Linked DNA regions of Homo sapiens. The protein of the gene in region 1 interacts with the protein of each later gene in a pairwise test. Each region holds a gene or a part of one and is shown on either strand. Other genes may lie near its edges.

Region 1 (7,269 bases):
AAAATTAGCTGGGCATGGTGGTGCACACCTGTAACCCCAGCTACTACTCGGGAGGCTGAGTCATGAGAATCACTTGAACCTGGGAGGTAGAGGTTGCAATGAGCCAAGATCGCGTCACTGCACTCTAGCCTAGGCGACAGAGCGAGACTCCGTCTCAAAAAAAAAAAAAAAAATACAATTCAGCTGGGCACGGTGGCTCACGCCTGTAATCCCAACACTTTGGGAGGCCAAAGTGGGCAGATCACTTGAGGTCAGGAGTTTGAGACCAGCCTGGCCAACATGGTGAAACCTCATCTCTCCTAAAAATAAAAAAGTTACCCGGATGTGTGGCATGCACCTGTCATCCCAGATACTCGGGAGGCTGAGGTAGAAGAATCACTTGAACCTGAGAGGCAGAGCTTGCAGTGAGCAGAGATTGTACCACCGCACTCCAGCCTGGGTGACAGAGGGAGACTCTCTCAAAAACAACAGCAACAACAAAAAACCAAACACAATTTACTGGGAGCTTGCTTATGCTAGGTACAGATCTGTGTGCTGGGGACAAAATAAGACAAGTCTTCCCAAGTATTGCACTGTTTTAAATTTTCCCCTGATACTTAAGTTTCTCCCTAGCCTTTGTTGTTTTCATTGTCCTTCTGTGGCCACTTTCCAGCTGCATTAACTCTTCTTTTTGTGTTCCTCAATATTAACAGCTTTATTGAGATATAATTCACATACCATATAATACACCCGTTTAAATTATACAATTTAGTAGTTTTTAGTATACTCACAGAGCTGTACAACCATTCACATAGCTAATTTTAGAACGTTTTCTTTTCCTTTTTTTTTTTTTTTTTTTGAGCAGGGTCTCGCTTTGTCACCCAGGCTGGAGTACAGTGGCTCACTGCAGCCTCGACCTCCTGGGCACAAGTGATCCTCCTACCTCAGCCTCCCGAGTAGCTGGGACTACAGGTGTGCACCACGATACCCAGTTAATTTTTGTTTTTATGTTTTGTAGAGATGGGATCTCCTTATGTTGCCCAGGCTGGTCTCGAACTCCCGGGTTCAGGTGATCCTCCCGTCTCAGCCTCCCAAAGTGCTCAGATTACAGCCATGAGCAATCACACCCGGCCTAGAATGTTTTGTTTTGTTTTGTTTTGTTTTTTGAGACAGAGTCTTGCTCTGTCACCCAGGCTGGAGTGCAGTGGCGTGATCTCGGCTCACTACAAACTCTGCCTCCCGGGTTCACGCCATTCTCCTGCCTCAGCCTCCCAAGTAGCTGGGACTACAGGCGCCCGCCACCGCGCCCGGCTAATTTTTTGTATTTTTTAGTAGAGATGGGGCTTCACCGTTGTCTGGATCTCCTGACCTCGTGATCCGCCCGCCTTGGCCTCCCAAAGTGCTGGGATTACAGGCGTGAGCCACCGCGCCCAGCCTCCTAGAATGTTTTCATTACCCCAAAAGAAACCTGTGTCTAGTAGCAGTCACTCCATTTCCCCCCTCCTCCTTCAGAGACCTTAATCACTACTCTACTTTCTATCTCTATGGATTGGCTTATTTTGGACATTTCCTGTAAATGGAATCATACAATATATAATCTTTTTGTATCTAGCTTTTTTCACTTAGCATTATTATTTTCTTTTTCTTTTCTTTTCTTTTCTTTTTTTTTTTTTTTTTGAGACAGGGCCTTGCTCTGTCGCTCAGGCTGGAGTGCAGTGGCGCAATTTTGGCTCACCGCAGCCTCAACCTCCTGGGTTCAAGAGATTCTCCCACCTCTGGCTCCCGAGTAGCTGGGATTACAGGCGTGCGTCGCCACATCCGGCTATTTTTTTTTTTTTTTTTTTTTGTATTTTTAGTAGAGATAGGGTTTCACCACGTTGGCCAGGCTGGTCTCGAACACCTGACCTCATGTGATCCGCCCGCCTCCGCCTCCTGAAGCCTTAGGACTACAGGAGTGAGTCACTGTACTCAGCCAGCCGCATGATGTTTTCAAGGTTCATCCATGTTGCAGTATGTATCAGTACTTCATTCCTTTTTTGGTCTAATAATATTCCACTGCATAGAGAGACCACATTTCCTTTAACCATTTCTCAGATAATGGACATTTGGGTTGTTTTTACTTTTTGACTATTATGAATAATGCTGCTAAGAACCATTAGCATGTACGTTTTTCTGTGGACCTAGGTTTTCATTTCTCTCGGGTATACACCTAGGAGTGGAATTTCTGGGTCTTATGGTAACTCTGTATGTTTTAACATTTTTGGGCCGGGCGCGGTGGCTCACGCCTGTAATCCCAGCACTTTGGGAGGCCGAGGTGGGCGGATCACGAGGTCAGGAGATCGAGACCATCCTGGCTAACACGGTGAAACCCGTCTCTACTAAAAATACAAAAAACTAGCCGGGCGCGGTGGCGGGCGCCTGTAGTCCCAGCTACTTGGGAGGCTGAGGCAGGAGAATGGCGTGAACCCAGGAGACGGAGCTTGCAGTGAGCAGAAATCGCGCCATTGCACTCCAGCCTGGGCGACAGAGCGAGACTCCGTCTCAAAAAAAAAAAAATTTTTTTTTTTAAGAATTGTCAGGCATTTTCATAGCAGCTGCATCATTTTACATTCCCACCATTCATGTATGAAGATTCCAAATTCTCCACATCCTCACCATCTATTTTCTTTCTTTTTAATGTTACCCATCCTTGCAGGCGCACAGCGGTATCCATGGATTTGATGTGCATTTCCTTGATAGTTAATGATGTTGAGCATCTTTCATGTGCTTATTAACTCTGGAGGTAGACCTGCCAGGCCTTTTCTAATGAGGGACAACCATGGCTTTGTACCCCAAGAACATTTTTATTGAGTTGCTTTGTGTCTAGATCATTAGGAGAATTAATTAATACTTTCTCTTCCAATGAAGCTCAGCTGCGTCCTACATCGTGAATGAAAGGCTTTCTGTACATTTTTCCAAAAAAAACCTAGGACTATTATGGATAAGAAGTGACATTATCTGAGCAGCACTTGAAGCAAGAGAAATACATACTCTGATGCATTATTTCAGTCTAAGGAAGTGGCCTGCCACGCACTCTCTCTCTCTCCGTGTGTTTTAATCTAATATAGCACAACTTGTCGAAGCAAATCTATAATGTATATAAATAACAGAACAGTCTTAGGTCCTCATGAAGAGCGAACTGACTTTTTTATGTTTAAAATCTTAAATACTGGTTAAGTTAGAGGTGAGATTAAAAAGTGTAGGAAAATCGGCTGGGCCCGGTGGCTAATCTCAGCACTTTGGAAGGCCGAGGTGGGCGGCTCACCTGAGGCCAGGAGTTCTAGACCAGCCTGGCCAACACAGTGAAAACCAGTCTCTACTAAAAATAGAAAAAATTAGCCGGGTGTGGGGCGGGCGCACGAAGTCCCAGCTACTAGGGAGGCTGAGGCAGGAGAATCCTTTGAACCCGGGAGACGGAGGTTGCAGTGAGCCGAGATCACACTATTGCACTCCAGCCTGGGCAAGAGCAAGACCTTGTCAAAAATAAAAAAAAGGTGTAGGAAAATAAACTGTCATCCAGTACAGCTGAAGAAATCGATACCTTAATTTACAACCTCAGTTTCTCTGTCCAAAGGCAATTCCAAGACTCGAGCAAATTCTTTTATTATGCTACGATTTTGGTTATTTTGAATACAGCTTTTCAAAGAGCCCTTGGGATTTGAGAGCCCTTGGTTTTCTAAGTGTTTTCAATAAGTCTTGTTTTTAAAGGCCGCGTCCTAGCGAGTGCAGCTGCCGCTCCTTACCGGACCCACGAGTGAGGAGCCCCGAGGTCATCACCGAGCATGAACGCGGGAACGTCTGGGAAGGAAATCTGAGGCCCTGCTCTGACGGTCATAACAAAGGCCTTCGAGCCAACCGGCGTGTTCAAATTCACCACGGCCCTTCCCGCGCTCCCCTCCCCGGAAACTTGACCACCTAGCCCAGAAAGCCGCAGCAGCTTCCTCAGGGACGCTATCTCCCATTTCAAACACCCAACCGAGAAAGCAGCGCCGCAGCGCGCCTTCCGCCACGCCCAGGTCCGCAGGTCTTCGCTCGGGGCGGAAAAGAATCCTCCCCGCGCACTCCCAGCCAGGAGGAACGCCAGAGGCCCCGCCCAATCCCTGTCGCTTCATTGGCTCTGGTGACCGGCCTCCCGAAAGTCGGCTTCCTATTGGTCGTCGTGGCCGCCGCTCTGCGCTTTTACCGGGGCACGCGGCGAGCGTGACCACGCCCCTTACGTCCGGACGCTCGGTCGCCTCCCGGGGCGCGGTAATCACCGCCCAGAGGGAAGGAGGTCGGCAGTGTGAGGAGCTGCTATGGTGCTGAGTTTCCTGGTAGAGCCGGCCGAGCTGAGGCGGTCGCGGCCATGAAGGTGAGGGGCCGGTGGAGCCGGACAGACCCTCCTCGCCAATCCTATCCTGCCAGGGCACCTGAAGCGCCTCCTTTCTTTCCGCCTTAGCGGTTACCTAGTCGTCATCTCGGAGAGCTGCGCTGAGGGGGGTCGCTTGCCCGGCTTCAGGTGCCCCAACCGAGCCAGGGCAGGCTGCCGGACCCTCTCGAGCTCCTCCAGTGCCACCCCCGTCAGCGACCCGAGCGGTGGGGAGAAGCCGGGCGTCCCTAGCGTTCGCGCCGGGTGGGCCCCTCTCTGCGCCGGGCCCTGTGCGCCTCCTCGGGGGCCTGAGGCAGAGCCGCCAGGGCTCGCCTGAGCCTCGGTCCCTTGGCGCGCGGCGTGCCCTTTCCCGCCCCGAGTCCTTGAACTAACCCAAGTGTTGGGGACATCGTGGGACCGAGGAGAACAGGAGGGGTGCAGGGGGTGGTGAGGCTAGGGCCAGGCTAACGGGTTAAAGAACTCTCAGGGTGGGGATGCCACCCGGAAGGGGTGCTTCGTAGGCTGCACGTCGGGGCCGCGAACTAGAGAAGGCTGGATGTGCCTCCATCGCCACTAGGTAAACGCAGCAAGGAATTTGGCAGCTTGAGTTCTCCAAGGTGGGAGTGAGAGCGTGGGAGCATTACTGATGAGAAGTTGAAGAAAAGGGGAAAGGGGAGCGGGGTTTCCGGCCTACTTCTGAGAGATGATTCTCAACCCGATCACTGAGAGTTCTGAAGAGCTTTGTGAACAGCAGTCAGTTCAGGGTATTGATTCATTTGCCGAACTCAAACCAAGTGGGATGAGTCATAAGGTGATGATAACTTTCAGACCTAGATGGTTTCGTTAATCTCAGTGCAGAGGTGTGCTGGGGGTGGGTAATCTAGCAGGTGAGCTGCTAGATTAACGCTGTCTCCATAAAGCGTCAAAGATTTACTATAGAAGATTGAAAAAGAGTGTCAGCTGGTCACAGAAATTCAGCACATGTTTTGTTGAACGTTTTCTGTGCGTTAGCCAAGAGGGAGACATGGTGAAGAGAAGTAATTCAAAATACAGTCTCATCCCTTAGGAAGGCAGTTTACCATTCAAAAGAAGAGTTATTTGTAAGTAACCATATTACAAGGCAGAAGGCTATAGGTATCAAAAAAAAAAAAAAAAAAAAGGCAGGGACAAAACACAGGAGCCAGAAAGGATACTTCTGGCTACAGAAAGCAAGGAATATTTTTGGAATAGGTAACTTTGGAACTGTGCCTTGAAGTATGAGGATATTGTAAAAGCTTATTTTTAACTTTCCAGTTTAGTTATAAAATATTATTACAGCTTGAAATATCTATTAAAGTATCTAGAAGTAGCTTTATTTCCTGAAAACCACCCTCTGCTGTGTTAAGATCCAAAAACAAAGCAGGGATCTTTATATATAATGCCTCGAAGAATCAGTATCTTTATTAATATTAAATTTGTGGCCCATTAAGGAACTAGCTATCGAAGGAAAGAATTAGAGACAGGTCCAGTGTTGAAATTTTTAAACAAGTTCTTTGAAAACAGACGTGTGTTTTGAATTGAAGTGGAAGGTACTACTTTCTAAGATGAAATTTTAGAAACAAAGTTTGGTGGCAATTGAAATTATAGAAAAGATACGTATTTTCAGAAGCAAAATATGGACCTGAATAGACATCAGCCTGTGCCAGATGACAGTTATAAATGATGCTTTTGTTTTTGTGAAACTGGATTTACACCATTGAGGATTTGGGCTGTTAAATGTTTATTATTTAACTTAATGTTGATTTATATTGAAATTGTTTAATTGTGGGTATGCTCATCTGTAGATTTCTGGGCAGAGACTGATTCCTGATGTCATGGAATGCTAACATGTGAATGTTCATGTAAGGAAATACTTCTTTCTGTGGAATTAAAATTACATTAAAAGCTAAGCAAGTATACCTGGCCGGGTGCAATAGCTCACGCCTATAATCCCAGCACTTTGGGAGGCCAAGGCAGATGGATCACTTGAGGTCAGGAGTTCGAGAACAGCTTGGCCAACATAGCAAAACCCTGTCTCGATTAAAAATTATTTTAAAAAGAAAAAAAGGAAAAAAAAAGTTAAGCAGTTAAAAATAAACAAGAAAAGCTAAGCAATTATATGGATAAGTACATGTTCACTCAAACCTGGAGCAGCTGGTTTTAGTATATGTACGGAATGGGTATTTACTTTCTCCCTTTGGCGTTTTGGTTTGGTTTGGTTTGGTTTGGTTTAGAAACTGATGTTTTGAAATAGGTCTTACCTCTCAGACTCAAGTAACTTTTTAACCTTGCAGTAACATCCAATCAACTTCCTATAAGGGATTAAAAAAAAAAATCCAAATTGGTGCCCTGTGTTAATTTGATTTAATCCTCTTTCCCATTTTTCCTTATTTATATTGATCTCACCATTAATTGTGCTAATCTGGGTTCTTCCAAGCTCAAAATGAGATATCAAGGAGAAAGTAATCTACTGAATGTAATTCCTTTTCCTTTTTTTTTCTCTGAAAGGTGGGGGAGTGGTACTAAGGATCAAGTATACTGTTAAAAGAAAACAAAAACCCAAGCATGAGGAAGGTAACATTTGTATCTATAGCACATGTTATTGTAATAATCGATCAGTTTGGCCAATGTCTTGTCTAAAAGTATTACATTTTAGAGTTCATCATCTGTTTTTGCAACCTGCTTAATGTCCAAATGGTATGAGAGAAATAATTTAGGATGTAGAATTCCTTCCTTTGTGGTATATGGTCGGATATTTGGTCACTAAGAAAGAGTTAGGTCCCTGCATATTGTATTTCAGTTGAAGCAGCAGTTTTGATAAGAAATCCTTTCACATTCTAAGGAGCATATGTTTCTCAAATGGCTCTAAATAGGATAAAGAGGCC
Region 2 (7,026 bases), on another chromosome or scaffold:
TTGCACTCCAGCCTGGGCAAAAAGAGTAAAACGCCGTCTCAGAAAAAAGAAATATTATTTGGCAATAAAAAGGAATAAAGTACTGATTCACACTGTAATGTGAATGTTTGAAAACATATGCTATATGAAGAAGTAATCACAAAAGATCATATACTGTATGATACCACTTATATGAAATGTTCAGAAGAGGCAAACCTACATTGAAAATAAATTACTGTTTGGCAGGGGCTGTGGGGGGAATGGAGAGTCGTAGCTAATGAACACAAGGTTTCTTTCTAGGATGATAAAAATGTCCTAAAATTGGGATTACAGTGATGGTTGCACAATCCTGTAAATATACTAGAAACCACTAAATTGTACGCTTCAAACAGCTGACTTTATAGTACGTAAATTATATCTCAATAGAGCTTTTTTAAAAAATATGCCCAATATTATTATTTTATGTCTTTTTTTTTTTTTTTTTTTTTTTTGAGACAGAGTCTCACTCCGTTACCTAGGCTGGAGCTCACCGCACCCTCCACCTCCAGGGTTCAAGTGATTCTCCTGCCTCAGCCTCCCAAGTACCTGGGTCTACAGGCGCGCACCACCATGCCTAGCTAATTTTTGTATTTTTAGTAGAGACAGGGTTACACTATGTTGGCCAGGCTGGTCTCAAACTCCTGACCTCATGATCTGCCCATCTCGGCCTCTCAAAGTTTTGGGATTAAAGGCATGAGCCACCGCGCCCGGCCCGCCTGTATTTCTTAGAACACACATGCCCCCTTACCTTGAAGCCACAGCCCAGCCTGGCAGTCCAAACCTCTCATAGTCCCCTCCATAAATATCTCGTACTAGTTTATCCACTTTGGTGCTATCTCCACGAGATGCCATTTCAAGAGCTTCTTCAAAAGTGGTACAGCCAGTAAGAAGACAGCAGAGACCAAAAAAAGTTCCTCCTCCAAGACTATGATTAAAAACAATTAACACAGTATTATAACATTTTTAAAAATAAGAACAAGAAGTTAACATTTATGAACCCCAAAACCATATTCACATATCCAACCCAATCATGCAAATGCCACTGGTAGGAAACAAGTCTGTGAAAAGATAAGGTGCCTGATATACACCTTTAAGGTACATATGCATGTGAGCCAACATGCAAAGTACAAAACACAGGGCCCATGTCCCCAGTGCAGTCTGGCTGTCTGCCAAGTATGAAGAGCCTCAGGTGCAAATTAGCCTGACACGCCTGGGGCCATGCTAACACCTCCTCCCTTTCCCTTCTCCAAGTACATTCCCTGAGTCATTCTCATCCAAGCACCTTGTCACCCTGGCTTATCAGTACACCCCCAAACATACTCCTCCTGCAACGTGTTTTGTCACAAAAAAATTACTCCTCTATTTAAATCACAACTGTTTTTTTAAAAAAATTGTTTATCCCAATCCCTAGATGCCTGTTTTTCCTGAAGTGACCTCTGACCCTTAAGCCGAAACATTCTCTTCTTCCATCTAATCCTCATTTTTTTTTTTTGAGATGGAGTTTAGCTCTTTTTGCCCAGGCTAGAGTACAATGGCACGATCTCGGCTCACCGCAACCTTTGCCTCCTGGTTCAAGTGATTTTTCTGCCTCAGCCTCCCAAGTATATGGGATTACAGGCATGTGCCACCACGCCCGGCTAATTTTGTATTTTTAGTAGAGATGGGGTTTCTCCATGTTGGCCAGGCTGGTCTCGAACTCCCGACCTCTGGTGATCCACCCGCCTCGGCCTCCCAAAGTGCTGGGATTACAGGCATAAGCTGCCGTGCCTGGCCCTAATACTCTCTTTTCTTTTTTTTTTGAGACGGAGTCTCACTCTGTCACCCAGGCTGGAGTGCAGTGGCATAATCTCGGCTTACTGCAACCTCCACCCTCTGAATTCAAGCAATTCTCCCACCTCAGCCTCCCGAGTAGCTGGGATTCACAGGCGCCTGCCACTGCGCCCGGCTAATTTTTGTATTTTTAGTAGAGATGGGGTTTCACCATGTTGGCCAGGCTGGTCTTGAACTCCTGACCTCATGATCCACCCGCCCCAGCCTCCCAAAGTGCTGGGATTACAGGCATGAGCCACCACGCCCGGCTAATCCTCTCTTTTCATACTACCTTCCCTCAATAATTTTTCTACTGATCAGTACATATCAACTTCTAAATCACATACATAGAATACATCATTATTCTACACACACATGTGTGTGGAAGCATGAAATTTACACAGGTTTCAGAGCTAGGTCCTTTCCCGTGCCTTCTCCTTACAGATGCTGCCTAATAACTTTAGCTACTTTGTGTATGCACACCATAAACTATCTGAGGGCAAAGGCTACAATGAGTCTGCTGATGTGATCTTTTAAGAAACACCTAGGATAATAAATCTTGAACAGTAGAGATTAAAGAAAACTAGGTCATAAAATCAGAATTTTCAAAGAGAAACATTTGTTTGCATAATCCAGAAACACTTTCACCTAACAGGTTCTTGAAGGTGTAGTTACATGTAATACCTGAAAACTCAGCCCGTTAGGATACTAAGAATAAACAGTGAGTTTTATATACAACTTACCTAGTACCTGTGACCCGTTTGTAATTATCTTTGGAATATACTGCTAAGATGCTAACCCCTGAGCCAATGTTCACCAGAAGCAGAGGATACGGATTTTTCAAATCAAATGGTAACTTCTGACACTTTTCAGAATCAGCAGGGTTTTCAAAGTAATAGCACTGTGACCGTCCATTGAATCCGACTGAGTCAATGTATAAAATTCCTTTGATCAAGCAATCTAGTTCATCCAGTTTGCAAAGCTGAAGATCACCTATCTGTAATGAAATAAGAATGTACTCAGACTTTTTAATAAGCCAACAGAAACAAAAATTCCATTCAATAAGGCATCCCCACTACGTGAAACAACCATGAAAGTGCACTCACAGATGTGTATTATTTGTGCATGCTTTACAGAACAGATTTAGGAGCAAACCTAGGGACACAGTGCTGAGACAGACTCCTGCTACTACAGACCCAAATACACTCTACATAGAAACTACTGCAGCAGCTGAATAAGTGTGACCAAAAAAAAAACAAAAAAAACAAAAAAAAAAAACCACAGCATTTATCAACCTTCAAACAGAAATTCAGATCTCTGCTTACAGGGACAATGGGGCTGATACCAAGCTCAGGCCACAGCACTATCAGAAACCACCTTGTGACACAGGGTGGGAGCCACAAGGACTGTGACAGAGGACCATCTCAAGGCTTTGGAGCAGTATCAAAAGAGGCCACACATTATTTAACAAACTGAAGCCAAAAGGCTGAAAGTATCCAGTTAGAAGGTAAGATTTTTTTCACTATCTAAACTAGCTACAGCCTCTTGGGAGGGAGGGGAATTTTAGCAGTCAAAATTTGAACTGTTTCATAATCAATTAATTCCATTTAAATAATAAAGGAATGACTAAATTATTATTCGTATTATGGAGCACTGTATAGCAACTAAAAATGAAGAGGATCGGCCGGGCACGGTGGCTCACGCCTATAATCCCAGCACTTTGGGAGGCTGAGACAGGTGGATCACAAGGTCAGGAGTTCAAGATCAGCCTGGCCAACATGGTGAAACCCAGTCTCTACTAAAGATAAAAAAAAAAATTAGCTGGGTATGGTGGTGCACGCCTGTAAACCCAGCTACTCGGGAGGCTGAGGCAGGAGAATCTCTTGAACCCAGGAGGCAGAGGTTGCAGTGAGCTGAGATGGCACCACTGCACTCCAACCTAGGTGACAGGGCGAGACTCCGTCTCAAAACAAAACAAAAATGAAGAGGATCTTTATGTTCTGAAGTGGGAAGAACTCCAAGGCATGTTAGTCAAAAAGTTGAGGCCAGGAACGGTGGCTCACACCTGTAATTCCAACACTTTGGGAGGCCGAGGCAGGCAGATCACTTGAGGTCAGGTGTTCCAGACCAGCCTGGACAACATGGTGAAACCCCATCTCTACTAAAAGACATGCAGAATAACAGGCAGAATCTGGGCCGGGCAAGGTGACTCACCCCTGTAATCCCAGCACTTTGGGAGGCTGAAGCAGGCAGATCACCTGAGATCAGGAGTTCGAGACCAGCCTGACCAACATGGAGAAACCCTGTCTCTACTAAAAATACAAAATTAGCCGGGCGTGGTGGCACATGCCTGTAATCCCAGCTACTTGGGAGGCTGAAGCAGGAGAATCGCTTGAACCCGAGAGGTGGAGGTTGTGTTGAGCCATTGCATTCCAGCCTGGGAACAAGAACAAAACTCCATCTCAAGAAAACAAAACAAAACAAAAAGGCAGAATCTCTTTCAGACTAATATTCTCTCATTTAGCAACAGAAAAACAGTCAGTCACTGAAGACATTTTCAATCTGTATTGCACCCTGACGGTCAGGATCTTGGCTTATTCATTTGTCAGTTCTCCGGCCTACCCCCACCATCCACCCTGAAAGGACCTAGCCTCAAGGTCTTGCTCACAATGTTCTCCAGTGTTCACTCAATGAAAGCAAGATAGAGCGCCTGGCAGCATTCCCCAGGGGCCAGACATGGTGGCGAGACTCCAGTTAAGTGTGCAGCACAGAACACATCAGAAAGCATTCTGGGAGAGGAGGGCTCTGCAGTCACCCATCTCAGACCAGCCCTGAGCCTGAAAACACCACTTTTGACCAGAGTTCCTTATTTTTTTCAGTTAGTGAACATGCCAGCAAACAACTGAGGGAGACAAGAGAAATTATGTGGTAGACAAGACTGAAAACAATTTTATGACATGAAATGATTTTAATTATATTTCAATCTCATTGTTCATGATCTAATGATGTTCCTTTTAGGTAGTTTCTTCCTCAACGTATAGCAGATGCCCTAATTTTTCATACTAAAGGAGCAATAAAATGCTACCCTTTTAGTGGTTCTGATTGTCGTCCATACATCTGAACTAGACAACCACCTCTAGATGGCCAACTCCTATCACTAGCGTACCTTTAATCTTCATTTGACTCAAGAAAATTCAAGTTCCATTAGAGATGGAAATTATTTCACCACTTGCTACTGGCATTATTTTTAACAATCAAATTACCATAAATTGTATATAAGCTAAAAAATGCATACTGTGAGAAAATCCTGCTCAAATTTGTACGCTCCACCTCCAGTGGCACAAAAGACAGTGTGGAGACTCGAGAAGTTTTTATCTCTGCCCATTTGAATAAAAGCAGGCATGTCATGAGTGGGAAAGCGTATAAAGTGCAGATTGCCTTTGCGTCCACACAGAGTCAGGTCCTTCAGCTCGAGGTGCACGTCCCGAATGCCTGTAGACCCATAAGCCACATTGGAGGTCAGGTACTTCCGAATGCTTTTAAGACTTTCCACTTCTTCCTCTTCTTCTTCAGCAGTGATGTCTTTGGGTTCAAAATATACCAGCTTGACCAGAGTTCCACCGATATCCAGTCCAAACCATGGAAAAACTAAATGGGGAAGAAAAATAAGTCAGAACAGCTTTTTTCTGAAAATTAAATTTACCCTTACCACAGTAGCAACTTATTTCAAACGCTAGGGTTTCCAAAGAACATAATTCTAGGCAAAAGGGTTTTGGGGCAAAGAAATGTGATTCTGTCTTGATTTAGATGCATAACTTAAAAAAAAAATACTACGGCAAAGACGAAAAAGAAAAATATCAAAGTATTGAGCCAACCCAACCATTCTGTCAGACAAGCGCAAACCGCACTATGAAGTGTTTTAAAAATAACAAGATGACTACTCGTAAGCCTCAACTGTGAAAAACAAAGATTCAGAATGAAAATCTCTCTTTCCTATCGGCTTAAAAAAAAACATTGAGACTTCAGAGTTCTGGTTTAGCAGCAAACTAGAAACAGGAAATTCCCAAACCTATGTAACATATAACCTCCAATGGTCAATTTATCTTTCAAAATCTGATATTCCAAAAATAAAAGGTTTCAATAGACATTAACACCGGTTCCCAAAATGTCCTTTAGGCCAAGCGCAGTGGCTCACACCTGTAATTTCAACACTTTGGGAGGCCAAGGTGGGTGGATCACCTGAGGTCAGAAGTTTGAGACCAGCCTGACCAATATGGTAAAACCCCATCTCTACTAAAACAAAAATTAGCCAGGCATGGTGACGTGCACCTGTAGTACCAGCTACTCAGGAAATCTAAACCAGAACTGCTTCAACCTGGGAGGTGGAGACTGCAGTGAGCTGAGATCACACCACTGCACTCCAGCCTGGGCGACAGAGTGAGGCTCTGTCTCAAAAAAAAAAAAAAAAAAAAAAGGCAGGGCTGGGCACGGTGGCTCACGCCTGTAATCCCAACACTTGGGGAGGCTAAGGCAGGTGAATCACAAGGTCAAGAGACCAAGATCATCCTGGCCAACATGGTGAAACTATCTCTACTAAAAATACAGAAATCAGCTGGCTGTGGTGGCGTGCGCTTGTAGTCCCAGCTACTCCGGAGGCTGAGGCAGGAGAATCGCTTGAACCCATGAGGCAGAAGCTGCAGTGAGCCAAGATCGCACCACTGCACTCTAGCCTGGCGACAGAGTGACACTCCGTCTCAAAGAAAAAAAAGGCCTGAAGAGATTGGATCAAAGTGGACTGCACAGACATATGGAAGGTCCCAATTTAATGAGGGCTCAAAGTAATGATTTTTCAAATTTACAATGGTGCAATAAGCATTCAGTAGAAACTCTACTTCAAGTATTTATTGTTTTTTTTATTTTTAGTACAGTATTCAATAAATTACAAGATATTCGACATTTTATTGTAAAATAATTATCTTTTATATTATTCATTATTAAATCATCTAGCTTTATGCTAGAAGATTTTGCCCAACTGTAGGCTAATATAAGGGTTCTAAGCACATTTAAGGTAGGTTTGGCTAAGCTATGATGTTCAATAGGCTGGGTATATTAAATGCATTTTGACTTACAGTATTTTCTTTTTCTCTTTTTTGAGGTAAGGTCTCACTGTCACCCAGGCTAGAATGCAACGCCACAATC

The links. Proteins that work in one complex are often made in the same cells at the same time.
Region 2: the proteins of RNF34 (region 1) and PANK2 interact in binary tests that used the Homo sapiens proteins (3 or more experiments, as listed by UniProt).

What each region holds. Positions count from the first base shown.
Region 1 is NC_000012.12:121,395,850-121,403,118, forward strand, and holds the start of RNF34 (E3 ubiquitin-protein ligase RNF34), read left to right. Parts: upstream 1-4,268; 5' UTR 4,269-4,363; coding exon 4,364-4,369; intron 4,370-6,189; exon of another isoform or gene 6,190-6,246; intron 6,247-6,892; exon of another isoform or gene 6,893-6,949; coding exon of another isoform or gene 6,950-6,958; intron 6,959-7,269. UniProt on the Homo sapiens protein: E3 ubiquitin-protein ligase that regulates several biological processes through the ubiquitin-mediated proteasomal degradation of various target proteins.
Region 2 is NC_000020.11:3,906,375-3,913,400, reverse strand, and holds part of PANK2 (pantothenate kinase 2, mitochondrial isoform 7 precursor), read right to left. Parts: intron 5,476-7,026; coding exon 5,123-5,475; coding exon of another isoform or gene 5,108-5,122; exon of another isoform or gene 4,776-5,107; intron 2,825-4,775; coding exon 2,571-2,824; intron 944-2,570; coding exon 767-943; intron 1-766.